2 separate regions of the Homo sapiens genome follow, and region 1 is linked to region 2. The links come from fine-mapping of genetic effects on gene expression. A gene starts in region 2. The other region holds a variant in brackets. All regions are shown on one strand. Distances are between the middles of the regions.

Evidence for each region.
Region 1: its variant is fine-mapped to the expression of GABRA3 in esophagus mucosa (GTEx, PIP 0.99).

The regions. Positions count from the first base shown.
Region 1 is chrX:152,236,581-152,244,580 of GRCh38, reverse strand. All of the region lies in intron 5 of GABRA3 (gamma-aminobutyric acid type A receptor subunit alpha3), which reads left to right. Among named protein-coding and RNA genes, the nearest start is that of MAGEA10, 100 kb to the right of the region's middle. The variant A/T (reference allele first, on the strand shown) is at 4,612.
Region 2 is chrX:152,445,496-152,457,430 of GRCh38, reverse strand. It overlaps GABRA3 (gamma-aminobutyric acid type A receptor subunit alpha3), which reads left to right and starts at 6,116. Exons shown (of 10, transcript NM_000808.4): 1 at 6,116-6,285.

The sequences.
Region 1 (8,000 bases), 210 kb after region 2:
AGAACTTATTTCTCACTGTTCTTGAGGTCAGGAAGGCCAAGATCAAGGCTCCAGTACATTCAGTGTCTAAAGGCTACCTCTCTGCTTCAAATATGGCAACTTTTTGCTGTGTCCTCACATGGCAGAAGAGACTAACATTTTCCTTTAGGTCACTTTTATAGGGCCAGTAACCCCATTCAAGAGGACAGAGCCCTCCTGACCTAATCACTTCTCTAATGCCCTATCACTTAATACTATCACATTAGTGGTTATATTAATATTTCAACATTTTAATTTCAGGGGGACACAAACATTCAGACCACAGCAGGCACTGAAGACATGGATGTAACAGTTTCTGAGTTGGAAAATTTACTCATTGGGTTAGTGTGTTGCATGGATTTCCATCAAAAAGCAAATGACTTACATGTGGTATTCAATCTAGTTCAGGAGACAAGACATATGTACCAGCAAAAATATCCTTAATATGCAAAGCACTGTATAATAAATGCAAAGTAAATACTGGCTTTTGTATCAATGGTATAATAAAATGTTAAAAATCAGCAAATCATACAGTAAGAATAATCTCTGATATGTTTGCTTGTTTTGAAAATGTACTTAGGTATTTCCAATAAAGATGAGATAAGGGCACCAAATAGCCAAGTCACTAATTTGTCTCTATTCCAAAGGTATAGAAAGAAATTATTTACCCTGTGACTTTTAGTCAATAGCAGGGATTTTGAACCCAATGAGATGGCATAGCATAATTGCTGGACCAAATGTTTCAAATGACCATATGCAGTTTATGGTTTACTGCTTGCTTCATTTCCCCTCCCTCCTTCAAGATTCTGATACATATACCTTCTGCCTGAGATGTGTGGAGAGTCAGTGGAAAGACATGAACCCAGTATGCTGAATCTCAGTCGTTAGACTTCTTGTCTTCCCTAGATACATCACTCCTTTTGTAGTATCATCTAGTCTTAGGGCTTCAATTAGCATCTGCAAGGTGTTAGCTAACAAGACACAGAGAACTGAAGTAACTTACACATAGCTACTACTACAAGCTGGGTTCATGGTGGACCTGGGTTTTAAATCTGGCAGTCTGGCTTTGGAATCCATGCTCTGTTTATAATAAATAAATAAAAATAATATGTATTTATGGTGTACAACAGAATGTCTTGATATATTTATGCATTGGGGAATAGCTAAATCAAGCTAATTTTCATATGCATTACCTCACATCTCAATTTTTGTGCTGAGAACACGTAAATTCTGCTCTCAGCGATTTTTAAATATATAAAACACTGTTATTAACTATACTCACCATGTTGTACAATAGATCTCTTGAATTTATTTTTCCTGTGTAACTGAAATTTTATATTCTTTGACCAACATCTCCTCAATCCTCCCACTTCCTGGCCACCATTCTACTCTCTTTCTATGAGTCCAACTTTTATACACTCCACATATAAATGAGATTGTAGAGTATTTGTCTTTCTGAGTGTGGCTTATTTTGCTTAAGATAATGTCCTCCATGTTGTCGCAAGTGGCAGGATTTCCTTTTCTTCTAAGGCCAGGTAGTATTTTATTGTGTATATATACCACATCTTTTTATCCATTTATCCACCAATGAATGCTTAAATTGATTCCGTATCTTGGCTATTGTGAATAATGCTGAAATAAACATGAAAATGCAGATATTTCTTCAACATACTGATTTCATTTCCTTTGGATGCATGTACACACAGTAGTGGGATTGCTGGGTTATATGGTATTTCTATTTTTAATTTTTGAGGAACCTCCATACTGTTTTTTATAATGGCCGTATGAAAGAGTTCTCTTTTCTCCACATTCTCGCCAACACCTATCTTTTATCTTTTTGATAGTAGCCATCCTAACAGGTGTGAGGTAATATCTGATTGTGGTTTTGATTTGAATTTCTCTGATTATTTATGAAGTTGAGCCTCTTTTCATACATCTAAGACAAACATTTATTCAGATCCTTTGCCTATATTAAAAATTGGGCTATTTGTTTTCTTGCTATTGTTGTTTGAGTTCCTTATGTATTTTGAATATTAACCCTTTATTTGATATATAGTATGCAATATTTTCTCCCGTTCCATAGGTTATCTCTTCACTGTGTTAACTGTTTCCTTGGATGTGCAGAAGCTTTTTAGGTTGATGTAATGCCATTTGGCTATTTCTGCTTTTGTTGCCTATGCTTTTGGGGTCATTTGCAAAAAATATCATTGCCCAGGCCAGTGCTGTTGAGCTTTCTCTCTCTGTTTTCTTCTACTAGTTTTATAGTTTCAACTCAAAATATATTGAGTTGACTTTTGAGTATGGTGTAAATGGGGTCCAATTTCATTCTTCTGTATGTGGATATCCTGTTTTCCCAACACCATTTATTGAAGAGACTGTTCTTTCCCCCATAGTGTGTCCTTGGCATCTTTTATGAAAACCAATTGACTGTAAATGTGCAGATCTATTTCTGGGCTCTCTATTCTGTTCCATTGGTCTATGTGTTTGTTTTTTTGTTAGTACCATGCTGTTTTGAGTACTATAGAAATCAAATAGGAGGAGCCAAGATGGCCGAATAGGAACAGCTCCGGTCTACAGCTCCCAGCGTGAGCGACGCAGAAGACGGGTGATTTCTGCATTTCCATCTGAGGTACCGGGTTTATCTAACTAGGGAGTGCCAGACAGTGGGTGCAGGCCAGTGGGTGCGCGCACCGTGTGCGAGCCCAAGCAGGGCGAGGCATTGCCTCACTTGGGAAGAGCAAGGGGTCAGGGAGTTCCCTTTCTGAGTCCAAGAAAGGGGTGACGGACGCACCTGGAAAATCGGGTCACTCCCACCCGAATATTGCGCTTTTCAGACCGGCTTAAGAAACGGCGCACCACGAGACTATATCCCACACCTGGCTCAGAGGGTCCTACGCCCACGGAATCTCGCTGATTGCTAGCACAGCAGTCTGAGATCAAACTGCAAAGCAGCAGCGAGGCTGGGGGAGGGGCGCCCGCCATTGCCCAGGCTTGCTTAGGTAAACAAAGCAGCCGGGAAGCTCGAACTGGGTGGAGCCCACCACAGCTCAAGGAGGCCTGCCTGCCTCTGTAGGCTCCACCTCTGGGGGCAGGGCACAGAGAAACAAAAAGACAGCAGTAACCTCTGCAGACTTAAGTGTCCCTGTCTGACAGCTTTGAAGAGAGCAGTGGTTCTCCCAGCACGCAGCTGGAGATCTGAGAACCGGCAGACTGCCTCCTCAAGTGGGTCCCTGACCCCTGACCCCTGACCCCTGAGCAGCCTAACTGGGAGGCACCCCCCAGCAGGGGCACACTGACACCTCACACTGCAGGGTATTCCAACAGACCTGCAGCTGAGGGTCCTGTCTGTTAGAAGGAAAACTAACAAACAGAAAGGACATCCACACCGAAAACCCATCTGTACATCACCATCATCAAAGACCAAAAGTAGATAAAACCACAAAGATGGGGAAAAAACAGAACAGAAAAACTGGAAACTCTAAAACGCAGAGCGCCTCTTCTCCTCCTCCAAAGGAACGCAGTTCCTCACCAGCAACGGAACAAAGCTGGATGGAGAATGACTTTGACGAGCTGAGAGAAGAAGGCTTCAGACGATCAAATTACTCTGAGCTACGGGAGGACATTCAAACCAAAGGCAAAGAAGTTGAAAACTTTGAAAAAAATTTAGAAGAATGTATAACTAGAATAACCAATACAGAGAAGTACTTAAAGGAGCTGATGGAGCTGAAAACCAAGGCTCGAGAACTACGTGAAGAATGCAGAAGCCTCAGGAGCCGATGCGATCAACTGGAAGAAAGGGTATCAGTAATGGAAGATGAAATGAATGAAATGAAGCGAGAAGGGAAGTTTAGAGAAAAAAGAATAAAAAGATATGAGCAAAGCCTCCAAGAAATATGGGACTATGTGAAAAGACCAAATCTACGTCTGATTGATGTACCTGAAAGTGATGGGGAGAATGGAACCAAGTTGGAAAACACTCTGCAGGATATTATCCAGGAGAACTTCCCCAATCTAGCAAGGCAGGCCAACGTTCAGATTCAGGAAATACAGAGAACACCACAAAGATACTCCTCGAGAAGAGCAACTCCAAGACACATAATTGTCAGATTCACCAAAGTTGAAATGAAGGAAAAAATGTTAAGGGCAGCCAGAGAGAAAGGTCGGGTTACCCTCAAAGGGAAGCCCATCAGACTAACAGCGGATCTCTCAGCAGAAACCCTACAAGCCAGAAGAGAGTGGGGGCCAATATTCAACGTTCTTAAAGAAAAGAATTTTCAAACCAGAATTTCATATCCAGCCAAACTAAGCTTCATAAGTGAAGGAGAAATAAAATACTTCACAGACAAGCCAATGCTGAGAGATTTTGTCACCACCAGGCCTGCCCTAAAAGTGCTCCTGAAGGAAGCGCTAAACATGGAAAGGAACAACCGGTACCAGCTGCTGCAAAATCATGCCAAAATGTAAAGACCATCGAGACTAGGAAGAAACTGCATCAACTAACGAGCAAAATCACCAGCTAACATCATAATGACAGGATCAAATTCACACATAACAATATTAACTTTAAATGTAAATGGACTAAATTCTCCAATT[A/T]AAAGACACAGACTGGCAAATTGGATAAAGAGTCAAGACCCATCAGTGTGCTGTATTCAGCAAACCCATCTCACGTGCAGAGACACACATAGGCTCAAAATAAAAGGATGGAGGAAGATCTACCAAGCTAATGGAAAACAAAAAAAGGCAGGGGTTGCAATCCTCGTCTCTGATAAAACAGACTTGAAACCAACAAAGATCAAAAGAGACAAAGAAGGCCATTACATAATGGTAAAGGGATCAATTCAACAAGAAGAGCTAACTATCCTAAATATATATGCACCCAATACAGGAGCACCCAGATTCATAAAGCAAGTCCTGAGTGACCTACAAAGAGACTTAGACTCCCACACAATAATAATGGGAGACTTTAACACCCCACTGTCAACATTAGACAGATCAACGAGACAGAAAGTCAACAAGGATACCCAGGAATTGAACTCAGCTCTGCACCAAGTGGACCTAATAGACATCTACAGAACTCTCCACCCCAAATCAACAGAATATACATTTTTTTCAGCACCACACCACACCTATTCCAAAATTGACCACATAGTTGGAAGAAAAGCTCTCCTCAGCAAATGTAAAAGAACAGAAATGATAACAAACTATCTCTCAGACCACAGTGCAATCAAACTAGAACTCAGTATTAAGAATCTCACTCAAAGCCTCTCAACTACATGGAAACTGAACAACCTGCTCCTGAATGACTACTGGGTACATAACGAAATGAAGGCAGAAATAAAGATGTTCTTTGAAACCAACGAGAACAAAGACACAACATACCAGAATCTCTGGGACGCATTCAAAGCAGTGTGTAGAGGGAAATTTATAGCACTAAATGCCCACAAGAGAAAGCAGGAAAGATCCAAAATTGACACCCTAACATCACAATTAAAAGAACTAGAAAAGCAAGAGCAAACACATTCAACAGCTAGCAGAAGGCAAGAAATAACTAAAATCAGAGCAGAACTGAAGGAAATAGAGACACAAGAAACCCTTCAAAAAATCAATGAATCCAGGAGCTGGTTTTTTGAAAGGATCAACAAAATTGATAGACCACTAGCAAGGCTAATGAAGAAAAAAAGAGAGAAGAATCAAATAGACACAATAAAAAATGATAAAGGGGATATCACCACTGATCCCACAGAAATACAAACTACCATCAGAGAATACTACAAACACCTCTATGCAAATAAACTAGAAAATCTAGAAGAAATGGATAAATTCCTCGACACATACACTCTCCCAAGACTAAACCAGGAAGAAGTTGAATCTCTGAATAGACCAATAACAGGAGCTGAAATTGTTGCAATAATCAATAGTTTACCAACCAAAAAGAGTCCAGGACCAGATGGATTCACAGCTGAATTCTACCAGAGGTACAAGGAGGAACTGGTACCATTCCTTCTGAAACTATTCCAATCAATAGAAAAAGAGTGAATCCTCCCTAACTCATTTTATGAGGCCAGCATCATTCTGATACCAAAGCCGGGCAGAGACACAACCAAAAAAGAGAATTTTAGACCAATATCCTTGATGAACAATGATGCAAAAATCCTCAATAAAATACTGGCAAAACGAATCCAGCAGCACATCAAAAAGCTTATCCACCATGATCAAGTGGGCTTCATCCCTGGGATGCAAGGCTGGTTCAATATACACAAATCAATAAATGTAATCCAGCATATAAACAGAGCCAAAGACAAAAACCACATGATTATCTCAATAGATGCAGAAAAAGCCTTTGACAAAATTCAACAACCCTTCATGATAAAAACTCTCAATAAATTAGGTATTGATGGGATGTATTTCAAAATAATAAGAGCTATCTATGACAAACCCACAGCCAATATCATACTGAATAGGCAAAAACTGGAAGCATTCCCTTTGAAAACTGGCACAAGACAGGGATGCCCTCTCTCACCACTCCTATTCAACATAGTGTTGGAAGTTCTGGCCAGGGCAATCAGGCAGGAGAAGGAAATAAAGGGTATTCAAGTAGGAAAAGAGGGAGTCAAATTGTCCCTGTTTGCAGATGACATGATTGTATATCTAGAAAACCCCATTGTCTCAGCCCAAAATATCCTTAAGCTGATAAGCAACTTCAGCAAAGTCTCAGGATACAAAATCAATGTACAAAAATCACAAGCATTCTTATACACCAACAACAGACAAACAGAGAACCAAATCATGAGTGAACTCCCATTCACAATTGCTTCAAAGAGAATAAAATACCTAGGAATCCAACTTACAAGGGATGTGAAGGACCTCTTCAAGGAGAACCACAAACCACTGCTCAAGGAAATAAAAGAGGATACAAATGGAAGAATATTCCATGCTCATGGGTAGGAAGAATCAATATCGTGAAAATGGCCATACTGCCCAAGGTAATTTACAGATTCAATGCCATCCCCATCAAGCTACCAATGACTTTCTTCACAGAATTGGAAAAAACTACTTTAAAGTTCATATGGAACCAAAAAAGAGCCCGCATTGCCAAGTCAATCCTAAGCCAAAAGAACAAAGCTGGAGGCATGACACTACCTGACTTCAAACTATACTACAAGGCTACAGTAACCAAAACAGCATGGTACTGGTACCAAAACAGAGATATAGATCAATGGAACAGAACAGAGCCCTCAGAAATAACACCACATATCTACAACTATCTGATCTTTGACAAACCTGAGAAAAACAAGAAATGGGGAAAGGATTCCCTATTTAATAAATGGTGCTGGGAAAACTGGCTAGCCATATGGAGAAAGCTGAAACTGGATCCCTTCCTTACACCTTAGACAAAAATCAATTCAAGATGGATTAGAGATTTAAACGTTAGACCTAAAACCATAAAAACCCTAGAAGAAAACCTAGGCAATACCATTCAGGACATAGGCATGGGCAAGGACTTCATGTCCAAAACACCAAAAGCAATGGCAACAAAAGCCAAAATTGACAAATGGGATCTAATTAAACTAAAGAGCTTCTGCACAACTAAAGAAACTACCATCAGAGTGAACAGGCAACCTACAAAATGGGAGAAAATTTTCGCAACCTACTCATCTGACAAAGGGCTAATATCCAGAATCTACAATGAACTCAAACAAATTTACAAGAAAAAAACAAACAACCCCATCAAAAAGTGGGCGAAAGACATGAACAGACACTTCTCAAAAGAAGACATTTATGCAGCCAAAAAACACATGAAAAAATGCTCATCATCACTGGCCATCAGAGAAATGCAAATCAAAACCACAATGAGATACCATCTCACACCAGTTAGAATGGCAATCATTAAAAAGTCAGGAAACAACAGGTGCTGGACAAGATGTGGAGAAATAGGAACACTTTTACACTGTTGGTGGGACTGTAAACTAGTTCAACCATTG
Region 2 (11,935 bases):
AACCGGGCGTGGTGGCGGGCGCCTGTAGTCCCAGCTACTCTGGAGGCTGAGGCGGGAGAATGGCGTGAACCCGGGAGGCGGAGATTGCACAATGAGCCAAGATGGCGCCACTGCACTCCAGCCTGGGAGACAGAGCGAGACTCCGTCTCAGAAAAAAGAAAGAAAGAAAGAAAGGTCACAGGTCAGTTTTATTCTGTTCCTCAGTAGGCATTTTTTCTCCCTAATGCTTTCAAAGTTTTCTATTTAAATTTGTTTTTCAATAGTTTGACTATGATATGCCTGAGTGTGGTATCCTGCTTGGAATTTATTGAGCTTGTTGAATCTGTAAATGTATGTGTTTTATTATATTTGTTTTTTTTTCAAACAGCTTTATTGAGTTATAGTTGATATACACAAACCTGCACATATTTAATATATTCAATTTGATGGTTTTTCATCATATTTGCAAATATACAGCCATTCTTTTTAAAATAATTTTTATTTTTGTGGGTATGTAGTAGGTATATTTATGGGTACATGAGATGTTTTGATACAGGCATGCAATGCATAATAATCATATCATACAAAATGAGGTATTCATCCCCTCAAGCATTTATCCTTTGTCTCACAAATAATCCGATTATACTATTTTAGTCATTTCTAGATGTATAATTAAATTGTTATTGATTATAGCCTCCCTGTTGTGCTATTATATACTAGGCCTTATTCATTCATTCTATTTTTTCTACCCATTAACCATCCCTCCCCACTACCCTTCCCAGCCTCTGGTAATCATCCTTCTACACTGTATCTCCATGGGTTCAATTCTTTGATTTTCAGCTCCCACAAATAAGTGAGAATATGCAAAGTTTATCTTCTGTGCCTGGCTTATTTCACTTAACACAATGACCTCCAGTTTAATCCATGTTTTTGCAAATTACAGGATCTCATTCTTTTTTATGCCTGAATAGTATTCCATTGTGTATATGTACCACATTTTCTTTATCTATTCATTTGCTGATGAACACTTAGGTACCTTCTAAATCTATGCTACTGTGAATAGTGCTGCAGTACCAGGGAGTGAAGATATCTCTTTGATATACTGATATCCTTCCTTTTGGGTATAAACCTAGCAGTGAGATTGCTGGATACCATATGAGGTAGCTGTATTTTTAGTTTTTTGAGGAACCTCCAAACCGTTTTCCATAGTGGTTGTACTAATTTACATTCCCACCAACAGTGTACAAAGATTCCCTTTTCTCCACATCCTTGCCTGCATTTGTTATTGCCTATCCTTTGGATATAGGCCATTTTAACTGAGGTGAGATTGTATCTCATTGTAGTTTTGATTTGCATTTCCCTGATGACTAGTGTTGTTCTGCACCTTTTCATATGCCTGTTTGCCATTTGTATGTTTTATTGTGAGAAAAGTCTATCCAGTTTTTTTTTGCCCATTTTTGAATCAGATTTTTAGATTTTTTTCTATAGAGTTGTGTTAGCTCCTTATATATTCTAGTTACTAATCCCTTATCAGATGGGTAGTTTACAAATATTTTCTCCCATTCTGTGGGTTGTCCTTTCACATTATTGATTGCTTCCTTTTCTGGGCAAAAGCTTTGTAATTTGATGTGATCCCATTTGTCCATTTTTGCTTTGATTTCCTGTGCTTGTGGAGTCTTTAGGTTTTTCCAAATATAAGATCATGTCTGCAAGGAAAGATAATTTGACTTCCTCCTTTCCAATGTGGATGCCCTTTATATCTTTCTTTTGTCTGATTGCTCTAGCTAAGTCATCCAGTACTATGTTGAATAACAGTGGTGAATGTGAGCATCCTTGTTGTGTCCCAGATCTTAGAGGAAAGGCTTTCAGTTTTTCCCCATTCAGTATCATATTAGCTGTGGGTCTGCTGTATATGGTTTTTATTATGTTGAGGTATGTTCCTTCTACACCCAGTTTTTAAGATTTTTGTCATGAAGGGATGTTGAATTTTATCAAATGTTTTCTCAGCATCTATTGAAATGATCATATGATTTTTGTTCTTCATTCTGTTGATATGATGTATCCCTTTGATTGATTTGTGTATGTTGAACCATCCTTGCATCCCAGGGATAAATCCCACTTGGTCATGATGAATGATCTTTTTAGTGTATTGCTGAATTTGGTTTGCTAATGTTTTGTTGAGGATTTTTCCATCAATAATTATCAGGGATATTGTCTTGTGGTTAGGCTTTTGTTTCAAATGTTTTTTCTTCCTCTTCTCTTATTGTTTGCCATCTGGGACTCCAATTATGTTTATAACTTTGATATTATCCTATGTATTTCTAACACTCTGCTCATCCTCTTCAATCTTTCTCTCTCTAATCTGTACTTCAGATTAGATAATATCACTAGATTTTTCTTCCAGTGAAACTACTCTTTCTTCTGCCATTTTCAACCTGCCATTAAACACCAACTCACTGAATTTTACTTCAGATATTCTGACTTCCTATTTGTTCATTTATTACACATGTGTTTTTCTTTATTTCCCTTAGTGTAATTATGATATGTGATTTAAAATTCTTTCTCCTAATTCAAACATCTGGTTTACCTTAGGGCTGGTCTCTATTATTATTTTTTCCTTGGATATGAGTAATATTTTCCTATATCTTTGCTTTGGTAGTAATTTTTGAGTGTACCCTGAAAATAGTGAATTATATATTGTAGGATACCTTTATTTTTTTCTCTAGAGCATTGATTTTGTTTGTTTTAGTAGACAGTTAATGGGGCTGAAGTGAAACTCCAAACTCTCCCTCATTGGCAGCACTGAAAACTCTGTTTAATTCTTTCAGCTTTATTTAGGCTTTTTGGAATCTGTTCCCACATAAATATTTCATGGTTTCACCAGACAGCTGGGTAGTTTATACACAGAATTTGGGGCTTCCTCTCCCTAGTTTTTTAAATTATTGAATTTCTCTCATGGCTTTTCAACTACCGTGGTCATCCTGAATTCTGCCGTCTGGTTCTTTCAGACACTTGGACTGTGAGCAGTTGTGTGTGGGAGCTGGCTAACACTGGTTTGTGAATGCCTACTGTGCATATCTCTATTCAACTCCATGTTCATGGAATGGTCCGTGGTAGAAGTATTTACACCATTGAAATTGGCAAATACTATGAATTTGTTTTTTATTAATTTTCCTCAAGATCCAGTTGTTAAACATTTAACAGTTGCAACATTGATTCTAGTTTCTCTAGAGTTTATTCACTGCTTTGGCCTGGGGGCTGCCATCAGACAAAAATTTCCAGAAAAGGAAAAACTCACTTAGTATTGTTCCCTCCTTTCAATTATTAATTCCCTTTCAATTTTTGCCTGTTTATGGGTTGCTTTCCTGTGCATTTAAATTGTTTTATTATATATTTGGTCCACTGTTTATTATTGTTATCTGCATCAGGGTTGGTCTGATAGAAGCTTCTTCACCATTGCCAGAAGTTTTCCTAATAAAGGATTCTGTTTTTTTTGTTGTTGTTGTTGTTTGTTTGTTTTTGGTTTGCAGTCAAGTGGGAAAATTATGAAAATGCTGTGAAGTTTTCATACAGGTATAATTGTATGATTCAGAGAAGAGTTTTTTTGTTCAGAGAGTGTCTTAATCCAACTTATTTATATTAAAATATCTTTTCTTTAAAATAAATGGTGGCACCCAGATGGTTTATTTGTTTGTTTGGTATCTTTATTAGATGAAAAGTTTTCAATTGTAGTAGACTGAATAGTGTCCCCCAAAATTCATGTTCGTCTATAACCTCAGGGTGTGACCTCATTTCAATGGTATGGTATTTGCAAAAGGAAGTAGTTAAAGATCTTGAGATGAAATCATTCCGGATTTAGGTTGGGCCTTAAATCCAATGACTGGTGTCTTTATAAGAAAAAAGAGGGAGATTTGGGCACACAGAAATCAGAGGAGAAGACCATTTGAAGACCGAGGCAGAGATTCAGTGATAAGCCAAGGAACACTGGAAACCACCAGAAGCTGGAAGAGACAAGAAATCATTCTCTAGAACTTTTGGAGTAGTTTGACCCTGCCAGCATCTCGATTTTAGACTTCTGACCTTCAGAACTGTGAGACAATAAATTTCTGTTGTTTTAAGCTACTGAATTTATGGTAATTTGTTATGGCAGCCCTAGAAAACTAATACAGCAACCTTAATATTTCTTTTTGCCAGTATACTAATCTATTAAATCCAATGGACATTTATGCAAACAAATCTACACATGAAAATGGGTACCTATGCAGGAAAAAGTATTTATAGCTTTATGCTCACATACACACTTGCTTTATGTGCAAGTTACATGTTAATTTTGTAGAGAAAAATACTGTACCTGCAGTCAGCAATCTGAGTACTGGCCTTGATTCTGCCACTGACTCACTATGACCTTGTGTGAATTATATTTTCTATTTAGTCTAGTTTCTTTTTCTGTACAATGACATGGTTATCTTTATGGGTCCCTTTAGCTCAGTGACTCTAAGCTTACGAGTACCTATCTATCTTCTACTCAATGTATGGACACATGCTTTTGAAGATGTATAGGAGTGTAGCACATGTACTTCATTTGGCAGGAGTAGAGAGCATTAGAAATTTGGGGGAAAAAAACCAACAGGATGGTAGTTTAAAGAGAAATGGCACACTATGGGCAACATTGTAAATGCCTATTATGTCCCAGTCACTGTATGTATATTGACACTAGTATACTTAAACACACTATATAACTCACTTTCAATTAGATGCCCTCTGAATTTTTCTAACAGGACTAGAAATCACAATATGAAGAGTTTGACTAAGAAAACTTTTATACTAATCATTATATGTAAGCAGATGCTGAATTCTTTGATAGGAACAGCTCTTTATTCACGTGCTTATATTGGTATTATCCCTGAAACACAAAAGATGGAATGTTGAATCAATGTGATTTGGAGTCGCATTTGGGGACTCACCTTTGGAGAACTTTTGAAATGTGGCAGTTTAGTTTTTATTTTCTAAGGGCCAACTTCTCCTTTACCTGGAATTTTCCTGTCTTTAGATTCCTAGACTGTTAGTTCTGGAAGGGTCTTTTAAGATCATCTATTTCCATTACCATTCATTTGGTCACTGAGGATATTGAGGGCCAGATTGAAGAACTCGTTGAAAGCAACACAGCAATTTTCAGAGGCAGAACTCAAACTCAAGTTCCTTTATTTTATTTTTAGCCTAGGTCTTTTTCCACTCTATGCTGCATTGTTACTGTGCTTTGCCTAGGTTGCTTTTTTTCTTTTGACCCAATGGGAATATAGTTCTTTTATACTTTGAGTCAATAATTATCCTTCTCCCCACCTTAGTCCTTGTGCAACTCATGTATAGGCTCACACAATTACATACATCTATATTCCCTTTGGAATTTTTGAAAAGAAAGCATTGTGGTTCTGCTGCTTGTCTGTCTTACCTACAGGGAAGCTAGAACTGATAGTTTTGAATTGGGTCTGCACTTCTACTTGGTTGAGGGTGGGGGTGGAAGTTAGGTCAACAGGGGATCAATGTGGCGGAACTCTTTCTTCTTAGTGGAGTATGAATGACAACCCCTTTGATGTACATTTTTCTAGCTCATTATTGTCCCCAGAGATGGAATCTGAACAGACAGGATTGTCAAACCTTTATTTGCAGCCTGGGTTAGAAGGCACGCCCATAAGGATATAAGGGAGACAGAGGGAAAAAGGAGGAAGCTCACTCTTCAGTCTCGGAGCAGCAAGTAAGCATCACACATCAGCTACAGTAACCCATACTTCCTTTATCCTCCTATTCGCTCATACCCTTTTGCTCTCTTTCTCTTCCCTTTGCTGCCTCTGCTCCTCCCTTTCTCTCTGGGCTTCCCTCTATTTCTCTGTTGGATGCCTTAAGGAATAAAATACTACTTTAGTATTTCGTAAAACAACCACATCTAAAGCCTTGCAGTACTGTATTCAGAGCCCCAGCACAGCCGCGTGCTAAGCACCAGTGGTGAACCTAAAGCCAGCAAAGGGGGAGGGGAGAAGGGGAGGGGAGGAGGGGAGGGAGAAACTGACAGAGAGGGAGGGAGGCAGATTGAGAGAGAGAGAGAGAGAGAGAGAGAGAGAGAGAGAGAGCGAGAGAGCGTGAGCGCGCGCAAGCTAGCGAGCAAACCAGAGAGACAGACCGAGAGAGGGACCAGGAGAGAGACCCAGAGAGAGAAGAAGAAGCCAGAAGCCGAGCTCTGTCAGGGCTCAACCTCCAACTTGTTTCAGTTCATTCATCCTTCTCTCCTTTCCGCTCAGACTGTAGAGCTCGGTAAGAAACATTGATGTTCCTTCTTCCCCCTCCCCCAAGCTCAGGTCTCCTTTAGCGATAGCATCTCTCCCCCGTACTGAGAGTCTCCTTGGGTTGGCCGGGAGGCGAGGCATGCTCTGCAGCTGTGATGCTATCCTGGGTTCCCCAGTGGGGCTGGTGGAAGCCCAGAGGCGGCATCTGAGCAGGGAGACACTGGGGTAAAACCCGATTTGAGGAAGGGGGGTTGCGATGTGGTATATGCGTGATTTGCTTCATTGTCAGTGAATTGTTTTGTTCCTCTTTGGAAGCAGGTCAGCACTGACCTTGCAAATTGCTTGGGGGGCCCCAGCAGCTGCTGCAGAAAGCCACGGAGTGGCCCCTAGCCAAAGCAGACAGCACTGTCATGACCCCCCAGACAGCTCTAGGCACCAGGGATGTAGTAATGGCTGGAGCTTTCTCCCTTCTTTAACTCTTTCTCCGCAGCTGCTTCTCACTGCTGGAAATAAGAAAGAAGGAGGGTACCTTGCAGCCTCTTTCCCCATCTCCCCATTACCTCCCCCACATGCAAGTGAGTAGAAAGTTGTAAATAACTGCTTCCTTTAAAGCAGATTGAGCCCTCCCCCCTTCCTTTGAGGGGCTCACTGTGGGGTTGGGCCTGACTTCCTCCACAAACTTGGGAGGTTTGCCTTGTTTCCCGGCGAGAAGCTCCATTGCCTGCCCACCCTCAATTCCAGATAATTGAGCTGACATCCTAGATCAGAGATTGAGATACCCCACCCCATCTCACTCATAGGCATCATGTTAAGTCCAGCTGTGTCCTTGGAAGGGAGGAAACACCTGATGGTTTGTCTGCAACTGGCCTCCCAGTTTGTTGCTCCTCTGACTGTGGCTGTGGCTGTGGCTGCGGGTGGCATGGGCAAGAGGACTGGGGGAAGGGTGGCTGTTGGATTTATGGAAAGCAGGGTGATGAGGTAGGATTACTAACGTGAGTAGTTTGGCTTATTGAGAGTCAGCAAGTTCTGGTTGTCTGGAGCTCTGCAAAGACTGATTGAGGCTCTTGTAGTATAGCCCTTCAGAACTGGTAGGGGAAGGGATCCAATTGTTTGATGGGAGCTTTCTAAGTGAGTGACGCTGCTGTGCCTGTGGTAGTAATTCTGACATCCCTAATACTAATTGCTAAAATTATCGAGTATGTAGTATATTTTGGATTCTGGGCTGAGTGTTTGGTGTGTATTACTTCATTAAATTACTGTAGCAGAATAGTGCATTGAATAACAGACACTATTATTATCTTTGGTTTACTCACAAAATTGAGGCACAGAGAGGTTAAGTAACTTATCCAAGATTACAGAGCAATTACATGTCTCAGTTGGAAATTAAACTGGCAACCTGGTTCCAGAATCCGTGGTCTTAACCATGAAGCACTACTGCCTTCTTGGGGAGAATTTTGCACCTTTGTCTGTTAGGCAAGTGTAGATACAATAGGTACAGTGTGGCTTGGCAAGGTTTTTTGGAAAGTAGCGGCCTGGCTTTCGTGTAGAGTAACAGCAACTCAGCCTGGAGCCGGGCTTCACCTGGATTTCTGGAGGGGCTGCCCAAAAGACTTTGATTGGTCAGCTTCCTTTCCTTGAAAATCGTACTTCACTTTTTATAGCCTCATCCACCCAACATGCTCCAAACTGCACCTTTTAAAAACAGACCTCATTCTTATTTCCTGAGCATTTGGAGTTGTTCTGTGCCGAAAATTTTAGAATACTAAAACCTTGGAACTGGAAGGAGCCCAAAAGGTCATTCATTAAGCTTTATTTCTCTACTCAGTTCTTGAATTTATCCTAAGCATCCAATTTGTTGACTGATTTCTAGTTGAACTCCCTGCAGTGACAGAGAGTGCATTAGGTGGCTCTTTGTGTCATGGAGCAACTCTGATTGTCAGAAAGTATTCCCCATCATAAGCCAAAGTCTGTTTCCCAGTAACTTATATTCGTTGGTTCTTTGGGACTATCTGGAACAAATTTGCTTTTTCTTAATAATAGTTCTTCAGTTAGTTGAAGACAGCAATCATGCCTCCCTCTTAACCCTTGGATCCAATAAGACCACAGAGTAAAGGATTATCATTTACTTCATGCTGGATATTAGACTATTCTTAATATGGCCTAATAGCCCACTTGTTTTGTTAGCCACAAATTGACCCTACGGAGTTTTCTAGAGCAGCCCTGATAGTGTATATTCTCTTCCTTGGATGAGCTTGCTATCTGGTGTCAACTGGACTGATGGGAGCAAGGAAGGTCGCTTTCATATTCCTAAAGACCAGAAATTGGTTAGTACTAGTCCTTCTAAAGCCCCCAGGATGTCTATATGGCATCCGGACAATAGGCGTGTGGGAAGATTTGAGTGGCAGGAATTTTCATAAAGAAAATTATGAAATTTTCTAATTTCATGAAGAAAAGTACCACATTTGAAATAGTGGTAGTTCAAGGTTCATACAGTATGCAGAAGGTAGAAGAATATATTGTTTTATCAGAAAACACCTCAGGAATAATTACATCACTGAGGGGATACAATGCAGTGGGACTGGGTGGAAAGGGGTGAGTATGTGGTTGCTAGAATGGAACACTGACTTGGCTGTTAGCAAATTTGGGTTCCATTCCTAGCTCAGATGATTTGCTGATTATCTTGGACATATGACTTCCCCTCCATGTGCCTCAGTTTTTCCATCTGTAAGATGTTGAGATGGACTGTGTCTCTGAGGGTCTTTCAACTCTGAAATTCTCTATCTGAAGTAAATTATAAGATTTCAGAGTTATGAGAGGCTTCGGAAATCGTTAGGCCAGTGCTTCTCAAACTTTAATGTGTAAAAATATCTCCTGGGAATCTTGTTAAAATGCGAATTGTGATTCAGAGAGTCTATGGCAGGGGCCTCGGATTTTGCATTTTAGCAATCTATTAGGTGATCCTGAAACTGCTGTTCCACTGACCACACTTCAAGTAGCAAAGCTCTAGTAGAGTACTGGTCAAACTCCCCTAGTGAAGGAAAATGTTTGTTGTCATTTGTTTGTTTGTTTCCTAATCCATCACAGAAGACTGTTAATTTAGTAAAATAAATTAACCATGAATTACTAGAAAATGAAAGAAAAGACATACAAAAGATAAGCCCGCATTTGTATTATTAGATTCTACAGACATAAAATGATTTTTTCAAATTGCTGTAACATTTTCTAAGTGCTTACTCTTGACTTCTGTACTTTGGTCCTTACTGCCTGGTAATAAAAGTTCACAGACAGGCACTGATTTGGCGGGCTACATTTTGAGTGCACTGGTCTAGGCTACCTGCCCATCTAATTTAAGAGGCCCAAATTAGACCCAGCTTTAATTTCTAAATCACCTGTCATGATCTTTTACCCTACAGTTAAATATCTCCTTTAATGAAGAATTTAACATTTACACAAAGTTGCATTGTTCATGTGTTGTGACAGATAAAATGTTTGTTTTTTCTTAAAACTCTTAATTTCCTTAGAGTTTCTACAAATTACGCTTTCAGTTATATATTCCAAGTGGGTGAAGGGCTGTATCAGTTCAGTTAATTATACCGTTAGCCATTAGCCTAGTATATGACATAGAGTAGGAGGCTTAACAGATGTTTTTTAAATAAATGAATGAACCATTTGACATTAGTTGTGGGGCCATACATTCAATAAAGGAAAGGTAATTTGGGCTTTCTTCTGCATTGGGGAAACAGGATTCATCCCATTTTAAAAATTTCTTACAGTGGATAGAAAGCCAACTTGACTACTTCAGAGGGTTACTTGGTATCTCAATTTTATTTTGAAGGGATTGCTGGAGTGGGCCATTATAAGGCTGTTGGTCTTTATTCTAGAAAGAGTGGGACTGATTAAAGGGCTTTGAGCAGGATAACTGACATGGCTTAAATGGAATCTATTCAATATAAGGTTACTAAGTGCCTATGATGAACCAAAGATAATGTGGGAGATACAGGATTATTTAAGAATAGCCTCTGCCCTCCAAGATGACACAGTCAAGTAGGAAAGAGAAGAAATAGACAAACAACTATAGTATTAGGAGATGAGATCTACACCCATAAGAGAGAAGCAAAGGGCTTTAAGGAGATCAAAGACACCTTCCTGGAAGTGGCATTTGAAATGAGCTTTGAAGATGAGACAAACTTTGAGTGTGCAGAATTGGGGGATGGGAAAGGTATTCTATTCAGAGGCTAGTTGTGTTGGAGTAAAGTGTATGCAGAAATACTTATGTGGGATGTGTTTGGCAAGATAGATGGAGGGCTTGACTGTCAATCATACTGAATGCTAGATGGGAAAATTAGGACTTTATATGCAAAGGAGATGCAACTCCCTCATTTTGTGGATGAGCAAACCCATCTTGACAGGGTGAGGGACTTGATTTGCCTGAGGCCACACAGGTAGTAATATTGTTGTAGCCCAGTAAAAGGTACTGAGCACATTTGAAAATATGGGATTGGAACTCTGGAAAGAAGTCAGTAGGAGAGAGTGATTTGAGAGTCATTGCCTCTCAATACTTGAAATAGAATAAAAGAGATTCAGGGGTGGTACTTTGAAGAATGCTTTTTTTTTTTTTAGGATATGGGAGAGAACAATGAACCTTATGTGAAGGCTACAAAGGAGAAAAAGTCAGGGATATGGAAGGAAAATTAGAAGAGTACAGTGTTATGAAGGTGCCAAGAGAGGAGAGGCACCTTCTAATTTATTTCTTGCATACATAACATTTACTAGGCATGGAGAATATAATGGTGAGCAAAACAGACAAAGTTGTTGCCATCCTGGGCTCATGGTTTAGATGGTGAGATAGACATTATTCGACAGACCACTGAACTATGTAGTCATAAATTGTGATTCATATGTAGAGGAAAATGTACCGCTTTAAAAAGAAAGGTGTGGTCAGCATTATTAAACTTCACAGCAGAGTTGAGTAGTGATAGATGATATCTGGTTTATAACAGTCCTTCCCACTCTGATGGTCACAGTGCCTACCAACACTTCAGTTGGATGATGCATACGCATTTTGCAAATGTTTGGCAGATGACTGTGCTTCAATAGTAAGGGAAGGGAAGGGTCCCTCCAGGCTCATGTCCACAGGAGCAGTGACTTACTTAAAAACTAGGTTATATGTCATGTAGCTTAACTGAAATTCACAAAGACCCAGTGCCTTTCCCAGGTCCTCCAACTCTCTCTATTCAGCAATTTATAGGAAGAGGCACTTGATAAAAAATATGAAGAATTTGATATTAAAAATCCCTCTTAAAATGGGATTTCTGATAGCCTAGTCCTGACTTGGATACTCGGTTTGTTGTGACATATCACTTGTCTTGTTGGAGCCTGTTTCCATAACTGTAAAATACGGTGGGGGGAGGTTTGGAAAAGGGTTTTGAATAGGGTGACTGACATGAATCCATTAAGATATTTAGAAAGAGCCTCCAAGCTGTAAGGTTCTATAGTTCATGTTCTGCTCTATATTGTGTTATCATGGTTCTGTGCAGGTAGCTCAGGTTTGGTCACTTCTATAAGCAACACTAATAACTTTATACAGAATTCTGAAGGTTGATAATTTTGGTGGGAGTATTCACAGACTTTGGAAGGGGTCATTGAAATGCACCTTCCATTTTTTATTCCTGAGGTGA